3 linked regions of the Homo sapiens genome follow. The protein of the gene in region 2 interacts with the protein of the main gene of each other region in a biochemical or structural test. Each region holds a gene or a part of one and is shown on either strand. Other genes may lie near its edges.

What was found.
Region 1: the proteins of STIP1 (region 2) and FKBP5 form a complex in vitro, tested with the Homo sapiens proteins (one study listed by BioGRID).
Region 3: the proteins of STIP1 (region 2) and HSP90AA1 form a complex in vitro, tested with the Homo sapiens proteins (9 studies listed by BioGRID).

The regions. Positions count from the first base shown.
Region 1 is NC_000006.12:35,573,882-35,580,915, forward strand, and holds part of FKBP5 (peptidyl-prolyl cis-trans isomerase FKBP5), read right to left. Parts: exon of another isoform or gene 6,676-7,034; intron 6,341-6,675; coding exon 6,155-6,340; intron 3,353-6,154; coding exon 3,113-3,352; intron 2,062-3,112; coding exon 1,954-2,061; 3' UTR 1-1,953. UniProt on the Homo sapiens protein: Immunophilin protein with PPIase and co-chaperone activities. Component of unligated steroid receptors heterocomplexes through interaction with heat-shock protein 90 (HSP90).
Region 2 is NC_000011.10:64,181,855-64,189,193, reverse strand, and holds the start of STIP1 (stress-induced-phosphoprotein 1), read right to left. Parts: upstream 3,024-7,339; 5' UTR 2,933-3,023; coding exon 2,924-2,932; intron 1-2,923. UniProt on the Homo sapiens protein: Acts as a co-chaperone for HSP90AA1. Mediates the association of the molecular chaperones HSPA8/HSC70 and HSP90.
Region 3 is NC_000014.9:102,080,208-102,084,044, forward strand, and holds the end of HSP90AA1 (heat shock protein HSP 90-alpha), read right to left. Parts: intron 3,777-3,837; coding exon 3,586-3,776; intron 3,487-3,585; coding exon 3,339-3,486; intron 3,096-3,338; coding exon 2,827-3,095; intron 2,238-2,826; coding exon 1,904-2,237; intron 1,615-1,903; coding exon 1,505-1,614; 3' UTR 535-1,504; downstream 1-534. UniProt on the Homo sapiens protein: Molecular chaperone that promotes the maturation, structural maintenance and proper regulation of specific target proteins involved for instance in cell cycle control and signal transduction.

The sequences.
Region 1 (7,034 bases), on a different chromosome or scaffold from region 2:
CCTGGTGAACCATAATACACACGTGGGAGACAGCTGGCATCATCTGAGTCTTGGAATAGCTTTCTTGTTTGTTATCTGCAAAAAGCTAGGTGGCCTTTTTAGTATCAAATTTCAATCTTGGCCTCACTGGAACCATGCTCTACAGAGCTTTCCCAACAGTTTAGCAAGTAAGCAAAATCAGCTTTTGCTCTTCATATTTCGTAGGTGAGACTGGGGCTTTTAAAAGAAATATTTCATAAAAAAGACAAAAGCATAAATGAGAAATTAGAGGGATTTTAGTTATCATTAAAGGAAAAAACTCACAAATTGATCCCATTTGTTCCATGGGGAAGAAAAGTATTATAAAAGGAAATAACTTGATTTTTAGGTTTGAAGGGGGTCCCAATCTAATAATAAAAGTCTTTTGATAAAACCATCATAAAAATAAAAACTAATTTAAAATATAACTGCCAGTGTTTTTTAGGATTTAAAAAGGTGAGATGTTCCAGGTTTAAGCAAATGGTTCCTTGGGTTGCCAAATGCATTCCCATGAGTGTTTCTTAGGCTGAGGGAATAGAGAGCCATGCTCAATCTGTTTACCCGTAAGGACTGAAATTCAACTACATGTACACATTTAAGACTTGCCCTAGTTCAATGGTCAGCTCAAGTACTGGAGATTTAGGCTACTGGCTGTGTACCGGCATGGGAAGCTGTCTTCAACTCTTTCACAACTCACGCCAGAACAGAGAAGCTTGACAGGGCAGGAAAAGCGAGCAACTGCGTGTCAAACCTGCAGGTGAAACCCCTAGTGTAGAAGAGCAACTATTTATTTGTCAACCCTACAGATTTTGTTTTTAAAAATTAAGCTTAGTACTAAAAAGTCAAAATTTTTTTGCATGATAGAGGAGTGTAAATAAAGTTCCATAAACCAGTATACATATGCTTATGAGCCAATAATCTTAAAAAGACAAAAAAAGCTGCATGGATCCTAAATGACTATGTAAATAGATCCACTCCAGGTCAAAAATATTGTAAGCACAAGTCTTAAATTCTTAATAGCAAGGATTAGAATGAAAGAAGAAGCTGAGCAGTAGCAATGCTGGGAGGAAGTACTGTGTATTGAATATTATTCCCTAAAAGGAATAGAGGAGGGGAGAAAAAGCACAATTCTGATTGCTCTTTTCACATTTCAGTATCTCAGAACTTCATCGAAAATAGGAAAAGCTAATCCAGAAACTCTCATCTGCTCATTATCATTGCTGAAGGGTGTTTTAGGAATGACAGAATTACTCCCCCAGGGACAGGCTGTGTGTGGTAGAAAGCCACTCTCACAAGGAGGCTGGCTGAGGAGGGGGACTTTGGGAGGAGGCTAAGTCAGCAAGCAAGTGGCCTCTGAGGTTCTGGCTTTCACGTCTGTGACACTGCTGTGGAACTGGGGAGACATGAGACCCCTCTACTGTGGGTTCTGTTGGTTAAAAATGCAACAGACTACATTTATAGCACTTCAGTCATTTAAAAAACAAAAGCTTATCCTCCTTCCCCTACCCTACCCAACTGTAGGAAAGGAGAAATTCATGAAGCATTTTTTTTTTAAAGGTTTCTGCAGTGCTATGAAAGTTCAAAGGTAAAACCTAACAGCCCCACATTGTTAGGATGATCTCCAGGGACCCTGAATTGGATACTTGAAGGTTGATAGAAACTGAAATGAGCTGGACTTAAGCTGCTGGCTCACTCCCTCCACACCACAGTCATTTCTGTTTGTTCCACCTGGAGTGGTCCCGTGCCACCCCTCAGTGAACCCTCCGGGCAGCAGCAGGGGGGCTGTTTTTGGGAAGCTACTGGTTTTGCCATTTGCTTCCAGAATCACATAGACTATAACAAACTTTACATTAAACACTGTTCTGTCCTGAGTTGGGGGAAAGCCCATTGAGGAGGGGCCGAGTTCACTGGGACTCTTCCCTCCTTGGCGTGGCGTCATACGTGGCCCTCAGGTTTCTCTTCTTCCATTGCTTGACTGTCTGTTCCTTTTTCATTAGTGACCCCTTCTGAAGTCTTCTTGCCCATTGCTTTATTGGCCTCTTCCTAAGGAAGAAATAAGCAATCAAGAAGGTTAGAGAATAAAGAAGTGAAATAATTCCTGGCTCCTCCAGACTGTGTATCAGGTCCCAAACACGAGGTATTGCAATGATTTTCTCTAGGATATCTAGCTGGGTAGGTCAGGGCTGTGCTACCAATAGTTAGAGTGGGAGCTTCACCTTTCTTTGGTTGACACATGGGACAGCTGTGGGATAATGAAGTCTGGGCATTCCTGGAGACTGGGGACAGGACCAGAATGCCAACTATGCTGTAGGGAGGCCGCCCTCTCTGCAGACAGACCTCTCCTGCCACATTTTTCAGGCTGGCTGCCGACCCTCAAGATAACAGGTGTGATGATGGGGCTCCTATAACATCCCATTTCCTGGGAAAATCGTAAGTCTTACTTGAAAAAAAAATCCTGATGGGTTTACAATTTTTCAAAAATGACAAAAGGGCTGGGCATGGTGGCTCATGTCTATAATCCCAGCACTTTGGGAGACCAAAGCAGGAGGAACCCTTGAAGCCAGGGGTTCGAGACCAGCCTAGACAACAAAGTGAAACCCTATCTTTACAAAAAATTTTAAAAAATTAGCCCAGTGTGGTAGTGTGCTTGTCCTAGCTACTCAGGAGGCTGAGGTGGGAGGATCACTTGATCCAGAGAAGTCAAGGCTGCAGTGAGCCATGTTAGCACGACTGCATTACAGTCTGGGTGACAGAGTGAGACTCTGACTCGGGCAGGGGCCCGGGGGGCGGGCGGGGGGAGTTGGTGCAAAATTGCTGTTTTTGCCATTGAAAGTAATGGTAAAAACCACAATTACTTTTGAACCAATCTAATACATCTGAAGGGAATTTAGTTTTCTCATCTCTCATGACGTGTGCCTTTGGTGACTGGAACTGCCCTACTCGACCTTTGGATCCAAAGCAGCCTCAGATTAGATTGGAAATCGTTTTCCCTGCTCTTGAGCCTCTTGGGTTGTTTAGCTGTTCCTGTCCCCTAAAATCAAAGGGGCATGGTCAGGCTCTTGATCCACCTGCAGTCATCAGGCTCTGCACACACCTTGGCATCCTGCTCTGCAAACTTCTTGAACATGTTGGCGTATATCCTGCGGTCCCGCTCGTTGTGCTCCTTGGCCTTTTTCTGGCACATGGAGATCTGCAGTCTTGCAGCCTTATTCTGGGGGTTTACTTCCAGCACTTTCTCAAAGTCACCCTTGGCTGACTCAAACTCGTTCATGAGCAGCTGGGCTTCACCCCTCCTATACAAGCCTTTCTCATTGGCACTGTCCAGTCCAAGGGCCTAGGAATAGATGGTCTATATTTTAGAAAGGACGAATTTTAATAAATTCAGTAAACAGCTTACCAAAGTTCTCTTGCCAAAGGAGATGGAAAAAGTGTATTTAAAAAAATGGGGCTCAAGATAATTACATACTACTGATCAAAATTTACTACCCAAATTATTTTCTGCATTTAATGCAATTTCTAGAAAGATCCCAAGGAGATTTGAGAGGGGGCTCTTGAGAAGTTCATTTTAAAGTTCATTGGAACAAATAAGTGCCCAAGAATGGCTGAAAAAATTTGGGAAAAAAGAAAAAAATAAGAGGCACTTGTCTTACCAGAGAAAAAGACAAACTTTAAAACTACTGAAATTAAGACAGTTTGGTTACTAGCATGTGGACAAACAGCTCAGTGGAACAGAACGAATCATTCAGAAACAGTCATGTGTCTGCATATAAAAACATTTGAAAATGACAAAGGTGGTAATGTGAATCAGTGGAGAGTTAACTTTAAAATAAACGGGGCCAGGATGGCAGCTATCCACATAGAAAATAAGAGTTAAGGCCGGGTGCAGTGGTTCACACCCTAATCCCAGCACTTTGGGAGGCTGAGGCAGGTGATCACCTGAGGTGAGGAGTTCGAGACCAGCCTGGCCAACATGGCGAAATCCTGTCTCTACTGAAAATACAAAAATTAGCTGGGCATGGTGGCAGGCGCCTGTAATCCCAGCTACTTGGGAGGCTGAGGCAGGAGAATTGCTTGAACCAGGGAGGTGGAGGTTGGAGTGGGCTGAGATCGTGCCACTGCACTCCAGGCTGGGTGACAGAGTGAGACTCTTGTCTCCAAAAAAAAAAAAAAAAAAAAGTTCTTACCTCATATTGTAAGCACAAAAGTAAATTCTAGATCAACCATATTTACATATTAAAAAAAACCATAAAATGTTTCAATTATTTTTTATTTTAAAATATGTAAAATATAATCATTATTTTTTTGAGGCAGGGTCTCACTCTGTCGCCCAGGCTGGAGGGCAGTGGCTCAATCACAGCTCACTGCAGCCTCTATCTCCTGGGCTCAGGCAATCCTCTCGCCTCAGCCTCCGAAAGTCCTGGGGTTACAGGTCACAGGTGTAAACCACTGTGCCTGGCTTCAGTTATTTTTATAATCTTGGTGTGGGGAAGTCTTTTCTAACTAGAAAGGAGACGACAAATCTGACTACATAAACATTAAAACCTTCTTTAAAGAGAAAGATATAATCAACAAAGCTAAAAGAAAATTGCTGGGTTGTGGTGGCTCACACCTGTAATCCCAGCACTTTGGGAAGCTGAGGTGGCAAATCACCTGAGGTCAGGAATTGGAAACCAGCCGGGCCAACATGGTGAAACCCTGTCTCTACTAAAAATACAAAAATTAGCCTGGTGTGGTGGTCGGCACCTGTGGTCTAAGCTACTTGGGAGGCTGAGGCAGGAGAATCGCTTGAACTCGGGAGGTGGAGGTTAGAGTGAGCCAAGATTGTGCCATTGCACTCCAGACTGGGTAACAGAGAAAGACTCCATCTCCAAAAAAAAAAAAAAGAGGAAAATAAGGAGAACAGGCTTCCTATTGCCAAAGATAGGGTTAATAGTGATGCTATATGACTGCTTCTGTCAATAGAAGACAGAAAAATAATGTAGTCAAGGCTGTGCTGGGTGTGGTACCTCACAACTTTAATCCCAGCTCTTTGGAAGACCCCCATCTCTACAAAAGTAAATTTAAAAATTAGCAGGGTGTGGTGGCATGCACTTGTAGTCCCAGCTACTCAGGAGGCTGAGGTGGGAGGATAGCTTGGGCCCCAGAGTTTGAGGCTGTAGTACATTATGTTCATGTGTATTAATAGCCACCGCACCCCAGCCTGGGCAAAATAGCAACAACTTGTCTCTAAAACAAACAAAACACACACACGCGCGCGCGCACACACTCTCTCTCTCTCTCTCTCCGCTCTGTATGAAAAAAACGAAAAAATACATATAAAATTAATAACTGGTCTTGGGAGAGAGGATGCGATAGGAAACACTGATCCACAAAATTCAAAAATAATCTCACAAAGAATGTACAAAATAGTTGCCTTGCTTTTCTTATCCTTTTATGTCTACCTTTAAGATACATCCAATGATTAGTTTTTACTTTTACCCACAGTATAATATATACTGTTCACTCTGAGACCAGATACCTAAAATAGTATCGGCTGGTGTATAAATATATCAGAACGATACATAACGATACAGATGATAAACCACTGTTATAGAGTACTGTGTGTAAGCACTCAAAAGACCAAAGATAGTATTAATAAGACAAATGTAAAAATAAAAAGGCTGCTGATGCTCTGTGGACCTTTCATATTATTTATGCATATCAGTGAATAAATGATTATAATAAAAATTGACCTATATATATGCTTTATATGAACAGTTGCAGTCTGTTAAAGTCCAGAAAAGCTTAAGTTAAATCTTCTCTTATTAAACTGAACCTGAGGAGTTATACGTCTACTCTGATATAAATACTACAGTTATAAGGAAGGTCGTGGATAAAAATTATTTAATTTTAATCAAAACTTTTCTTCAGAATGCATTATGATAAACAGTCTAGGTATCATAAAAGTCTGACTGTAATAAAAATCTTGCTGAATTTCCCAATTCATACTGAGAAACAAATAATCCCAAACATTCAAATAAATAAAAAAAAGCAAAATGAAAAATCCTGCAACCTTTGGCTGAGAGGAAGCAAAAGACAGAGATGGAGAAAAGATCTGGAGTATCTAAAGTCCATCTCACAGGAGACACGATGTTACCTTGTCACAGCATTCAACAGCTTTGGTGTATTCTCTAAGCTTCAGGTAGCACATGGCCAGGTTCAGAAAGGCAGCAAGGAGAAATGATTCAGAAGCTTTCGATTCCTTTTCTGATAAACCATATTCCATCTCTAACCAGGACACTATCTTCCCATACTGAATCACCGCCTGCATGTATTTGCCTCCCTAGGATAAAAAAGCGTCATTACTTGTACTCAGCTCTTGAGGGGGTACAAAAGAAAAGCAAATCCTCAAAGTGAAGCAACCCCTCCAGCAAACCCTGGTACAGCTGGTTTCTTTCTTTCCTTCTGGAGATGGCTCTCCAGGTACCTTTCCCACTCCCTTGGAGGCCTCGATGGCCTGTGGGCTGGTTTGGGGCAGTGCCTGAGCACTGCCTAGTGCTGCTCTGCAGCATTTCCATCCGTCCCTTCAGCAGGTGTAGTACAGCAAGGCTTCTGGGCTATGTTCTTTGGTGCTAATATTCTTTAGTCTTTTTTTTTTTTTTTTTTTTTTTTTTTTTTGAGACACAGTCTCGCACTGTCTCCAGGGCTGGAGTGCAATGGCGCCATCTCAGCTCACTGCAACCTCCGCCTCCCGGGTTCCAGCGATTCTCCTGCCTCAGCCTCCCGAGTAGCTGGGGACTACAGGTGGCCGCCACCAAGCCCAGCTATTTTTTTTTGTATTTTTAGTAGAGACAGCGTTTCACTATGTTGGCCAGGCTGGTCTTGAACTCCTGACCTTGTGATCCGCCTGCCTTGGCCTCCCAAAGTGCTGGGATTACAGGCATGAGCCACCACACCTGGCCTATTCTTTAGTCTTTCAAAAGGATTGTGAGCAGTTTTAGACTATGCCACTAAAAAAATGAAAAGGAAGTTACTTT
Region 2 (7,339 bases):
AGACAGGGTTTCACCATATTGGCCAGGCTGGTCTTGAGCTCCTGACCTCGTGATCCACCCGCCTCAACCTCCCAAAGTGTTGGGATTACAGGCGTGAGCCAGCACGCCCGGCCCAGTTTTTCTTTTTTCTTTTGTATTTTTACTAGAGACGGGGTTTCACCATGCTGGACAGGTTGGTCTCAAACTCCTGACCTCATGATCCGCCCACCTCGGCCTCCCAAAGTGCTGGGATTACAAGTGTGAGCCACTGCACCCGGCCCAACTTGAGTATTTTCTAAACTGAAATACAAACCTCACAGTTGAAAATGAAAACAAAAGGTAGAGAAATCGTGTTTGTTTTCAGGAATGGCTTCCAGATGGTGGGCTCAAACACACCTGGGATTAAATGCCAGGTCATCTGTACAGCTGCCATGCCAGTTTGCTGTCCTAAGTCAAATATTCATTCACCATCTACCTACCTGTACATACACTTCTATCACCAGTAGTGGTAATTTAAAAACAAACATTTTAAGACCAGGCAAGGTGACTCACGCCTGTAATCCTAGTGCTAATGAAGTGGGAGGCCAAGGCTAGAGGATTGCTTGAGCCTAGAAATTCGAGACCAGCCTGGGAAACAGCAAGAGCCCCGTCTCTACAAAAAATGTTAAAATTAGCCAGTTGTGGTGGTGTGCCCAGCTACTCAGGAGAGTGAGGCAGGAGGATCGCTTGAGGCCAGGAACTTGAGGCTGCAGTGAGCTATGATCCCACCAGGGCACTTCAGCCTGGGCCACAGAACCAGACCCTGTCTCTAAAAAAAATACAAAATAAATTTGGTAACAGAAATCGTTTCTTTTCTTTTTTTTTTTTTTTTGAGATGGAGTCTCACTCTGTCACCCAGGCTAGAGTGCAGTGGCGTGATCACAGCTCACTGCAACCTACGCCTCCCGGGTTGAAGCAATTCTCCTATCTCAGCCTCTCCAATAGCTGGGATTACAGGCCTGCGCCATGACCCGCTAATTTTTGTACTTTTAGTAGAGAGGGGGTTTCACCATGTTGGCCAGGCTGGTGTAGAACTCCTGACCTCAGGTGATTCGCCCACCTTGGCCTCCCAAAGTGCTAGGATTATAAGCGTGAGCCACTGCGCCCAGCCGAGATCCTTTTTTTTTTTTTTTTTTTTGAGACGGAGTCTCGCTCTGTGGCCCAGGCTGGAGGGAGACGGAGTCTCGCTCTATGGCCCAGGCTGGAGTGCAGTGGCGCAATCTCGGCTCACTGCAAGCTGCCCCCAGGGTTCACGTCATTCTCCTGCCTCAGCCTCCCGAGTAGCTGGGACTACAGGCTCCCGCCACCACGCCCGGCTAATTTTTCTTCTGTATTTTTAGTAGAGACGGGGTTTCACTGTGCTAGCCAGGATGGTCTCGATCTCCTGACCTCGTGATCCGCCTGCCTCGGCCTCCCAAAGTGCTGGGATTACAGGCTGAGCCACGGTGCCCGGCCCCAGATCCTTTCTTAAAGGTAAAAGAGCAACGTCTTATTCCAGAAATCTTTTCCTCACCTATACTACAGCCCATTTAACCCTAGATACAACTGAAATATTATATGGGCACAAAAAAGTTTACTAACTTCATTTCCACTCTTTTTAATACAGCAAGGAAGCTCGAGCTTTGCCTAAAGCAGCAACTGCTACAAGAGACCAAAGGCTCAGCTCTGTAGCTCACACCAAAAAAAGGATGGTAGTCACTAGTCCATCGAGATGTCTTATTTAAGGGGAGAGTGTGGGCGATCTTAGTTTTATGGCCCTGAAGTAAGAACCAGATACCAGGTATAGTTTCAGAATTGTCACCCCCAAGTGTTATGGGCCCGGAGCGAAGACAGTAGTACTCCCGAGCGGGAGGATGATTTCTCGGAGGTTGGTAGAGGTTTCTTGGAGGTTGTTTTGTCCTTTTTCTTCCGATGAATCATTACAGCTCAATGACAGCTTCAAATCGAACAAAACCTCTAGGCCTTTCATAACCGCAAGCTACTGAGGACATAACCAAGTCACTGAAAGGAAGCAGCAACCGCTTCAAACTCGGCCCCTCAAATGCTCAGTAGAGGCCCATAACTTCCAGCGGTTGATCTCTGTAAATTGTCTACAACCACCCCCGGGTCGTCAGAAACCCATCTTTCAGACCCACCTTTCGGAAGTGTTGGTCCTCGGTCACTCGACAATCACACACACAAGCATACAAAAAGAGGGGGAGGGGCCGCAATACATTTGTAAAACACTGTCAGAGATGGAATTCGTCCCAAGGACTTTTGCGGCACCCTTCCCTTTCCCGCATCAGGTAGAGTCGGTCTGTCGCTCCTCAGACCCCCGCTCAACGCTCTCCCACCCTGACCTTCTCAGATGTAGAAGAGTAACATTTGCCCCAACTGCATCCCAGGCTGCTAAGATCCTCGGCTACTCCCAGTGTATCCCCGTCCCCGCTCCCTGGATCCGTCCAAGTTCCTCGTGGCTAAGTCCCGAGCGGTTTCTCCGTCGGCCGTCTGAGATCTCCCGGAGGGCTACCTCGCGGGTGCGGACCCCGGCCCCCGGCCCACCTCCACCCCGCCCCCTGCGGCCCGCACCCTCCCCAACATGGCCCGCAGCCGCCCCCTCGGGACGCCTTCAGGGCCCGGTCGCGACCCCTCTTCCCGCCGCCGGCCGGACTCACCCAAGCTGTGGCCTCCGCCGGGCCCTCCTCGCCCAACCAGGGGGCGATGGGCGCTCCCCGCGGCCGGCCTCGCTAAAGATCCCGCTCCCGCCCGCCGCCCGCGGCCCTCACCTCCCCGCCGCCGCCCCGTCCGGCCCCAGCGCCGAGCTCCGGTCTCCTGGATCCGGCGCCCGCCCCGCCCCCCTACCGCGGCCTGGCCACCGCCGGTCCCCGAGCAGGCTCGGGGCCTCAGCCCGCCCCTCCCCCTTCACCTGCTCCATAGCGCAGCGCGGTCCGGAACCCCGTTGAATCGAATCCGTCCGCTCCGCGTTCCCAACCGCACGCGCCGCCTTCTGGAACCTACTAGAAGCTACCGGGACCCCGGCTCCCGCCCCTTCCTCGCCTGCTCACTGGTCGAGTTCTTCTAGGGGGAATGTCTGTGCTGCTCTACTATTGGCTTGAGGTCCAGCCCATCATCTCCACTTCCTTCTCATTGGACAGCGGGGAGTAATTCCCTCAACCCTGCCTCCCCCGCACCTCAGGATTGGGCGCTCCTCTATAAACCCACCCATCTCAGGCTCCACGAATGGAGGGAGGAGCGAACTTCTGCGACACGGATTGGTCTTTTGCACTGCCAATCGTAGCCGCGCTGGCCGCGCCCATTGGTTCTGATCGTTCTGGAAATTTCCACCTCTCCCATTGGGCTGCCGGACTCCATGTCGGAACCGCCTTCAGAATGAGAGCGATTCCAATTGGGCGGAGGGTTGCCAACTCTTTGCGCTGATTGGTTTAAATCGCTGCCCTTCAAAAGGCCGGGTTTCGCCCCGCCCCTGATATATGGGAGTACCGGCTGCAGTCGGGGTCTGTAGCTGTGTCGCCGGCGGCTGCGGGGCCTCTGGGTTGCTTTCCCTCTCGCTCCCGAGTGCCGCGAGTTCCAGGCGGTCCCCGGGATCGCCAGCGGCACAGGGCCCCAGCCCTTCGCCCGCGCATCGGGATGGGGGTCCTAGCCGGTGGGAGCTGCCTGTCCCTCGAGCGCCAGCTACCCGCGTTGTCCAGCGCTCCGGCCTCGGCCCGGCCCTCCTGCCTCCTGGCTGTTAGGTTCTGAATGTTCCGGAAATGCCACGTGACCGCGAGGGCGCTTGGGCTTGGGCTGGACAGGCCGGGGATCTCACCGCGGCGGGCCCGGCTGTCCCGCTTGGGCGTCCTCAGTGGAACCGCACACCCTTTCTCAGCGCGCCGGTCGTTTGGTCCTGTAGGGCCGAGGGGAATTCGTGCGGTGTTGAGCACGCGGGAAGCACTTAACGAAAGGGAGCTGCCCCTCAGCCCTCGTGAGTCCGATGTAAAGGAGTGAAGGAGACGAAGAACTGAATCAGTAGTTGACCGCCTGTGAGCTGGCGAGCTGTGCCCTGGTAGGGCCTTAAATCCCAGCCCCAGAAGTCGGAGGCAGGGCAGGCACCCCAAAGCGTGGAAGAGATGCACCTGCGGAGTGAAAATGCTGCTATTGCTTCTAGGGTCAGCCTTGGTTCCTGGAACAAAGGAGCCGCATGACTCGGGTCTGGCGATGATGTTGGGCTCTGCAGTGTCCTCATCCTTCCCCCTCTCTGGGTAATGATATCTTCCCAGGGTTTAAAGTGTGTCCTCTCTGCCAGTAGCTTGTCTCCACAGCCTCATCTTTAATTCCACCTGCCCCACCCATTTTGGACACTGCAGCCAAGTTGCAGCAGATCCGCAAACCTGGTAATCCCTCACTTGAAAGTGCTGGAGGCTTTAGGATGGGGTTCAGGGCCTGTGCAATCTAACCGCCTGCTTTTTTTTTTTTTTTTTTTTTTTTTTTTTTGAGACGGAGTCGAATCTCACTGTCTCCCAGGCTGGAGTGCAGTGGCGCCATCACAGCTCATTGCAGCCTCAACCTCCTGAGCTCAAGCCATCCTCCCACCTCAGCCTCCCAAGTACCTGGGGTTACAGGCAAGCACCATTACGCCTAGCTAATTTTTCTGGGTTTTTTTTTTTTGTTTTTTTTTTTGTATAGATGGATTTCGCCATGTTGTCCAGGCTGGTCTTAAACTCTCGCTCTGTCTCCCAGGCTAGAGTGCAGTGGGGCAATCTCGGCTCCCTGCAACCTCTGCCTCCTGGGTTCAAGCAATTATCCTGCCTCAGCCTACCAGTTAGCTGGGATTACATGTGTGCGCCACCGCGCCCGGCTAATTTTTTTATTTTTAGTAGAGGCGGGGTTTCACCATGTTGACCAGGCTGGTCTCAAGACTACTGACCTCAAGTGATCCCCCCCCCCCCCCGCCTCGGCCTCCCAAAGTGCTGGGATTACAGACGTGAGCCACCGTGCCCAGCGGTTTTGCATTTTCAATTGTGGGGCACGGTGAGAAAAGACTTGAAGAAAGCAAGGGAGTGAGATCCATGGAAATGTAGGGGGGAACCTTGCAGGCCTATGGAACAGCCAGTGCAAAGGGCCTGGGGTGGGAGCTGCCTCAGGGTAGCCAGGATGGCAGGAGGCACAGCTGCCGAGAGGAAGCAGGGGCCAGGTCCTGCAAGGTTAGAGGCCATTGCTACTCCTGAACACATTGGCAGGTTTTGAGCAGAGAAGTGACATGATTTTAGTTTTCTCAGGATCCCTCTGGCTGCTGTGTGGAGGAAGAGGGGAGGGTGAGAGCAGGGATACCTCTTAGGAGGCTGTGGTAGTAATCCCAGGGAGCCAGGATGGGAGCAGAGGAGGGGACAGGAATTGGATTCTGGATGCATTTTGGAGGGAGCATGAAGGAAAGCGGGGTCAAAGGTTCCTCTGAGGCCTTGGCTGCCTCTCTTATTCATCTACATCCATTCTGTCAAGGACACCTTTCATTTCTTCTTGGCACTGTCTCAAGGCCACCACGCTGCTGCCCACCTGACCAGCAGTGGCCTTTCCAGGCCTTCCATCTTCTCCCCAGCAGCTTATCTCTGCGTAGCCAGGTCCCATTTCCCACACACCTTTTTTTAAAGTGTGTTGCACTGCTCTGGGTGCAGGACTGTAGCAGTGACCAGGGCAGCTCCAGATGAAGCTTCTGCTCACAGGAACCTTTTCTACTGAAACAGATGATACCTAAACTCTCAGCTGTGTGACTTTAAGCAACTTGCACAACCTCTCTGTACTTCAGTTGCCTCCATCTTCAAATGGGGATTAAAAAGTGTTGACATCATAGTGGTTGTGAGGATTACATGATTTGATAGTTTATAAAGCACTTAGAACTTGTGAAGAAGAGTGCCTGGGGATTGCCTAAGGTCAGGAGTTCAAGACCAGCCTGGCCAACATGGAGAAACCTCATCTCTGCTAAAAATACAAAAACTAACCACGCATGGTAGTGCACACCTCTAGTCCCAGCTACTTGGGGGGCTGAGGCAGGAGAATCACTTGAACCTGGGAGGTGGAGATTGCAGTGAGCCAAGATTGCGCCACTGCACTCCAGCCTGGGCAACAGAGCAAGACTCGGTCTCCAAAGAAAAAAAAAGAACTGCCTGGCTACGGAATAAGAACTACATGGAGTTATTAAATCAAAATCGGTGCACAAATGATAATTCTTAAGAGTGAGTGCTACAGAGAACACAAAAGGCAAGGCACAGAGAGATGACCTGGGAGGCAGGGAAGGAAAGCATTCCCAGAGGTGAGTGGTTAGTGAAGGCTTGTCAGAGATGGGACGAGGAGAAGCCTAGGGGGCACAGAAGATGCAAAGGTGCTGAGGCCAGGGCAAATTCAGAATTTTTTTTTTTTTTGAGATGGAGTCTCGCTCTGTCTCCCAGGCTGGAGTTCAGTGGTGCAATCTCGGCTCACTGCAACCTCCACCTCCTGGGTCCAAGCAATTATCTGCCTCAGCCTCCAGAGTAGCTGGGATTACAGGCATCCACCACCACGCCCGGCTAATTTTTGTGTTTTCAGTAGAGACAGGATTTCACCATCTTGGCCAGGCTGGTCTTGAACTCCTGGCCTCATGATCCACATGCCTCAGCCTCCCAAAGTGCTGGGATTACAGGCGTGAGCCACCGCGCCCAACCCAGAATTCTCTTTTTTTGGGGGGGGGTGGGGGACAGAGTCTCACTCTGTCATCCAGGCTGGAGTGCAGTAGCGCGATCTTAGCTCACTGCAACCTCTGCCTCCCAGGTTCAAGCGATTCTGCCTCAGCCTCCCGAGTAACTGGGATTATAGATGCCCGCCACTACGCCTGGCTAATTTTTTTTTTTTTTTTGTATTTTTAGTAGAGATGGGGTTTTACCATGTTGGCCAGGCTGGTCTCAAACTCATTACCTCCAGTGATCCACCTGCCCTGGCCTGCCAAAGTGTTGGGATTACACAGGCGTGAGCCACCATGCCTGGCCCTGGCCCAGAATTTTCAAGAAATCTAAGGAAGGCTTTTTTGTGCTCTAAGTGTCCTTGTCTGTAAGGTAGGGGGGATAAAGTGCCCTTGACTTCCCAAGGTTACTATGCAGATTGAACAATATAATCCTCCCGGGTTGGCCTTGAGTCTTGTCAGACCTGAAGCTTATGACAATTTGAGAGCTCGCTTTGAGAAAAGAAACACAAAAAATGAGGTGTGTGGCTTTAGAAGGAGCACAAATGGGGTCCCCGATGTTTAAGCTGCTTTAGTGTTACAGTAAAGCCACCTCTGAATACCCAGAAGTGTTAGCTCTTACAACTTCCACCAACT
Region 3 (3,837 bases), on a different chromosome or scaffold from region 2:
ATTCAGCCACTACTAAGACCTCAATTTACGTAATTCCTCCTGTATATTATCGAAGGGGATTAAGAACTTTTCAGAGAATTTAAAGGACTAAACGTGATTGCCATTTACCAAGCATTCAATACCTGCTTAGCACGAGACTGAGACAAGGTCTCTCCCTGCCTGTGCACTGCCCCCTTAGACACTGTCACATATCCAAGTCCCAGGCATTTCCTATCATTTTTATATATGGCGTTAGGCTCAGAATGCAAATCCTATATGCTATCTAACCAAGTTTTGTCTCTAGAACCACCAAATTTCAGAAGTGAAGACTTTTATTTAGCCATTACCACCCCCAGTCCCCAGAGGGACTCTTACCTATTGGGCTGATTTTTTCATCTTTTTTTTGAGATGGAGTTTCGCTCTTGCTGCTCAGGCTGCAGCGCAATGGTGCAATCCCAGCCCACCGCAACCTCCGCCTCCCAGGTTCAAGCGATTCTCCTGCCTCAGCCAGGATGGCTTTAAGTAGATTTGTAAAGAACTTTGAGACACTGTAAGGCCAAGGAATTAAGTGACTGTATTTAACACAGAAGGTATTCCATGAATAACATCAAAACAACGTGGACACTAAGAGAACACATGTAACTCATGGACGCAGGGGATGCATGTTGTCTGCATTCCTGTTTTCTGTGCCTACGTGTGCTCCACCCCACACCTGCTGAGTACATGCTGGGAAGACCATGTCAACCCTTGGAGCAGCTAGTGTTTAACCATCTCCTGCTAGCGCCTCATGTTTTACATTTTGGCACTAACTGTCATCCAGATACTCCCCTTTCCCCCTAAATAAGACACTGTCACACAATATCTTTTAACTCATCTGTATTTGTTACAACTTTAAGCAGAATGTGACTCGAGCACTACATTTCCATCCACAAGACTGGGTCTGAGTTATTTTTGAACAGCTTTACGATATGCTTAGGTAGGCTTTTAACTTTGCTCCTCCAAACAATACTTTTCTTTGGAAAACAAGCCCTGTGGAGAGATCCTTCCATCAAGTTGCTTCAGTTTAACCTATTTCTAGAGGACTAGTACATGCAGAATTGTCAACTACAGGGAATGAAAAGTTCAAAAAGTAGATCCTACAAGATGTAACGAATACTTTTCTAAACATCAAGATACAGCTCAGAACACTTCAATAACAAGATTTGGTCTACTTAGGCATCCGGCTTGACAGCTAAACACTTTAGACCACAAAGTTAACATCATGTTACATACGTCTTACAGTGCACGTTACCCCAATCTGTGAAAATAAACCAACATGAAACTCAAAAAGCATTACTAGCTCTGCTTTAGTGCCTAAGGTATCACAGCATCACTTAGTAGACAGAAATCTTATCTTCCCCTTAAAGTAGTTGTCATGCCATACAGACTTTTTAATATTAACAAAAATAAAGAAAAACATCCTTGAAAATATATTATCAGAGGAATTGTAGAGTACTGAACAGGTAAGTCATCCCTCAGCCAGAGATTAGTCTACTTCTTCCATGCGTGATGTGTCGTCATCTCCTTCAAGGGGTGGCATTTCTTCAGTTACAGCAGCACTGGTATCATCAGCAGTAGGGTCATCTTCATCAATACCTGTTTCCAAAATAAAATCCTCATATTACAAAGATTTCTTAAAGCCAGCTATTAGGGTAATACTCTTGGTTTCTATCTGCTTTCAAGACAGTATTACAGGACATATGAGTCTCAATTTCATTTCTTTGCTCTTGTAAGACCTTACTTATCCCTAAAAAAAACATACTTTAATACCTCCAAGCAGCAAGCAGGACAAGGTGCTCCAAGTTTGGATAACTGAAAGTTCACCATTTTCTTCAATGTCACGTGTGTTTATTTTCTTTTTAACATTACATAGTATAAGGCTTACCCAGACCAAGTTTGATCATCCTGTAGATCCTGTTAGCATGTGTCTGGGGATCTTCCAGACTGAAGCCAGAAGACAGGAGCGCAGTTTCATAAAGCAAGATGACCAGATCCTTCACAGACTTGTCGTTCTTATCAGCCTCTGCCTTTTGCCTTAAGGTCTCAATAATGGAATGGTCAGGGTTTATCTCCAGGTGTTTCTTTGCTGCCATGTAACCCATTGTTGAGTTGTCTCTTAGGGCTTGAGCTTTCATGATTCTCTCCATGTTTGCTGTCCAGCCATATGTGCTTGTGACAATACAGCATGGAGATGTCACCAATCGGTTTGACACAACCACCTGTAATCAAAAAGTGATGACTAGGAACCTAGAAAGATTAATTCCTAAACTTTCATTGTGAAATGAAATCTGTAGAACCCAAATTTCAATAGATCCAAAATACTATCTACTGTCAAATACAACTTAAATGTCGCATTAGGTATCCAAAGAGCACAGGTTATAATTTCATGTTTTACATGCACAATTTTTTTTTTGAGATAGAGTCTCGCTCCATCACCCAGGCTGGAGTGCAGTGGTGCGATCTTGGCTCACTGCAACCTCCGCCTCCTGGGTTCAGGCGATTCTCCTGCCTCAGCCTCCCAAGTGGCTAGGATTACAGGCCGTGCCACCACGCCTGGTTTATTTTTTTCTATTTTTAGTAGAGACTGAGTTTCACCGTGTTAGCCAGGATGGTCTCGATCTCCTGACCTTGTGATCCGCTGCCTCAGCCTCCCAAAGTGCTGGGATTGCAGGCGTGAGCCACCGCGCCCAGCCACACACAACATAGTTTTCTGTTTTAAGTTGAAAACATGCGAAAATGGGCTATGTATGACTAAGCTTGAAAGCACCTTAGAAGTATCAATGATCAGGAAATGCTGTATTCACATACCTTTTCAACTTTTTTCTCCAATATGTCTTTCATGATTTTGCAGAGGTTCTCAAACTTTGTTTTTTTCTCTTCCTGCTTCTTTTTCTCTTCTTCATCCTCTGGAAGTTCCAGGCCTTCTTTGGTGACTGACACTAAAGTCTTCCCCTCAAATTCCTTCAGCTGTTGGACACAGTACTCATCAATGGGCTCAATCATATAGATCACTTCTAAGCCATGTTTCCGAAGACGTTCCACAAAGGCTGAGTTAGCTACCTGGTCCTTGGTCTCACCTGAGGTATTACAAAGTTACTTTTAGACCTTTTAACAGTTAAGAATGGTTTCATCTAGCTCTGACTTTTCTTGCTAGCCAGATACCTAGGCAGAACCTAAGACAGAAAATGACCTAGTTCATGTTAATTATCTTGCCTAGATCAATACCAGTTGTAACAGTGCTACCTGAGTAGAAAACACACCCACAGAGCCTACAAGATTGTAAGAACGACGTGTATGACTGTAACATAGTGTTCTCTTACCTGTGATATAATAGATATGTTTCTGGTTCTCCTTCATTCTGGTGCAGTAGTCCTTGAGAGAAACCATCTCATCACCAGAGGCAGATGTGTAGTACCTTAACAGCTCTGAAAGCTTCTTCCGATTTTGAGAGTCTTCGTGTATTCCAAGCTGAAACAAAGTATGTTCTTTACAAAGACTTTCTGAATTAAAAAAAAAAAAAAAAAACTAAAGAGGCCAATTGGAAAACTAATGGTTATTTACACCAACCTTTATGTTTTTAGAGAACTGCTCATAGAATTTCTTGTAGTTCTCTTTATCTTCCGCCAGTTCAGTAAAGAGTTCTAAGCATTTTTTGACCAAATTCTTCCTGATAACTTTCAAAATTTTGCTTTGTTGCAACATCTCACGGGATATGTTTAGAGGGAGATCCTCCGAGTCTACCACCCCTCTAATGAAGTCTGAAAAAAATATAAACCAAATGCACTGAGTCATTCCAAGGACAAAACTGGTACTATGTAA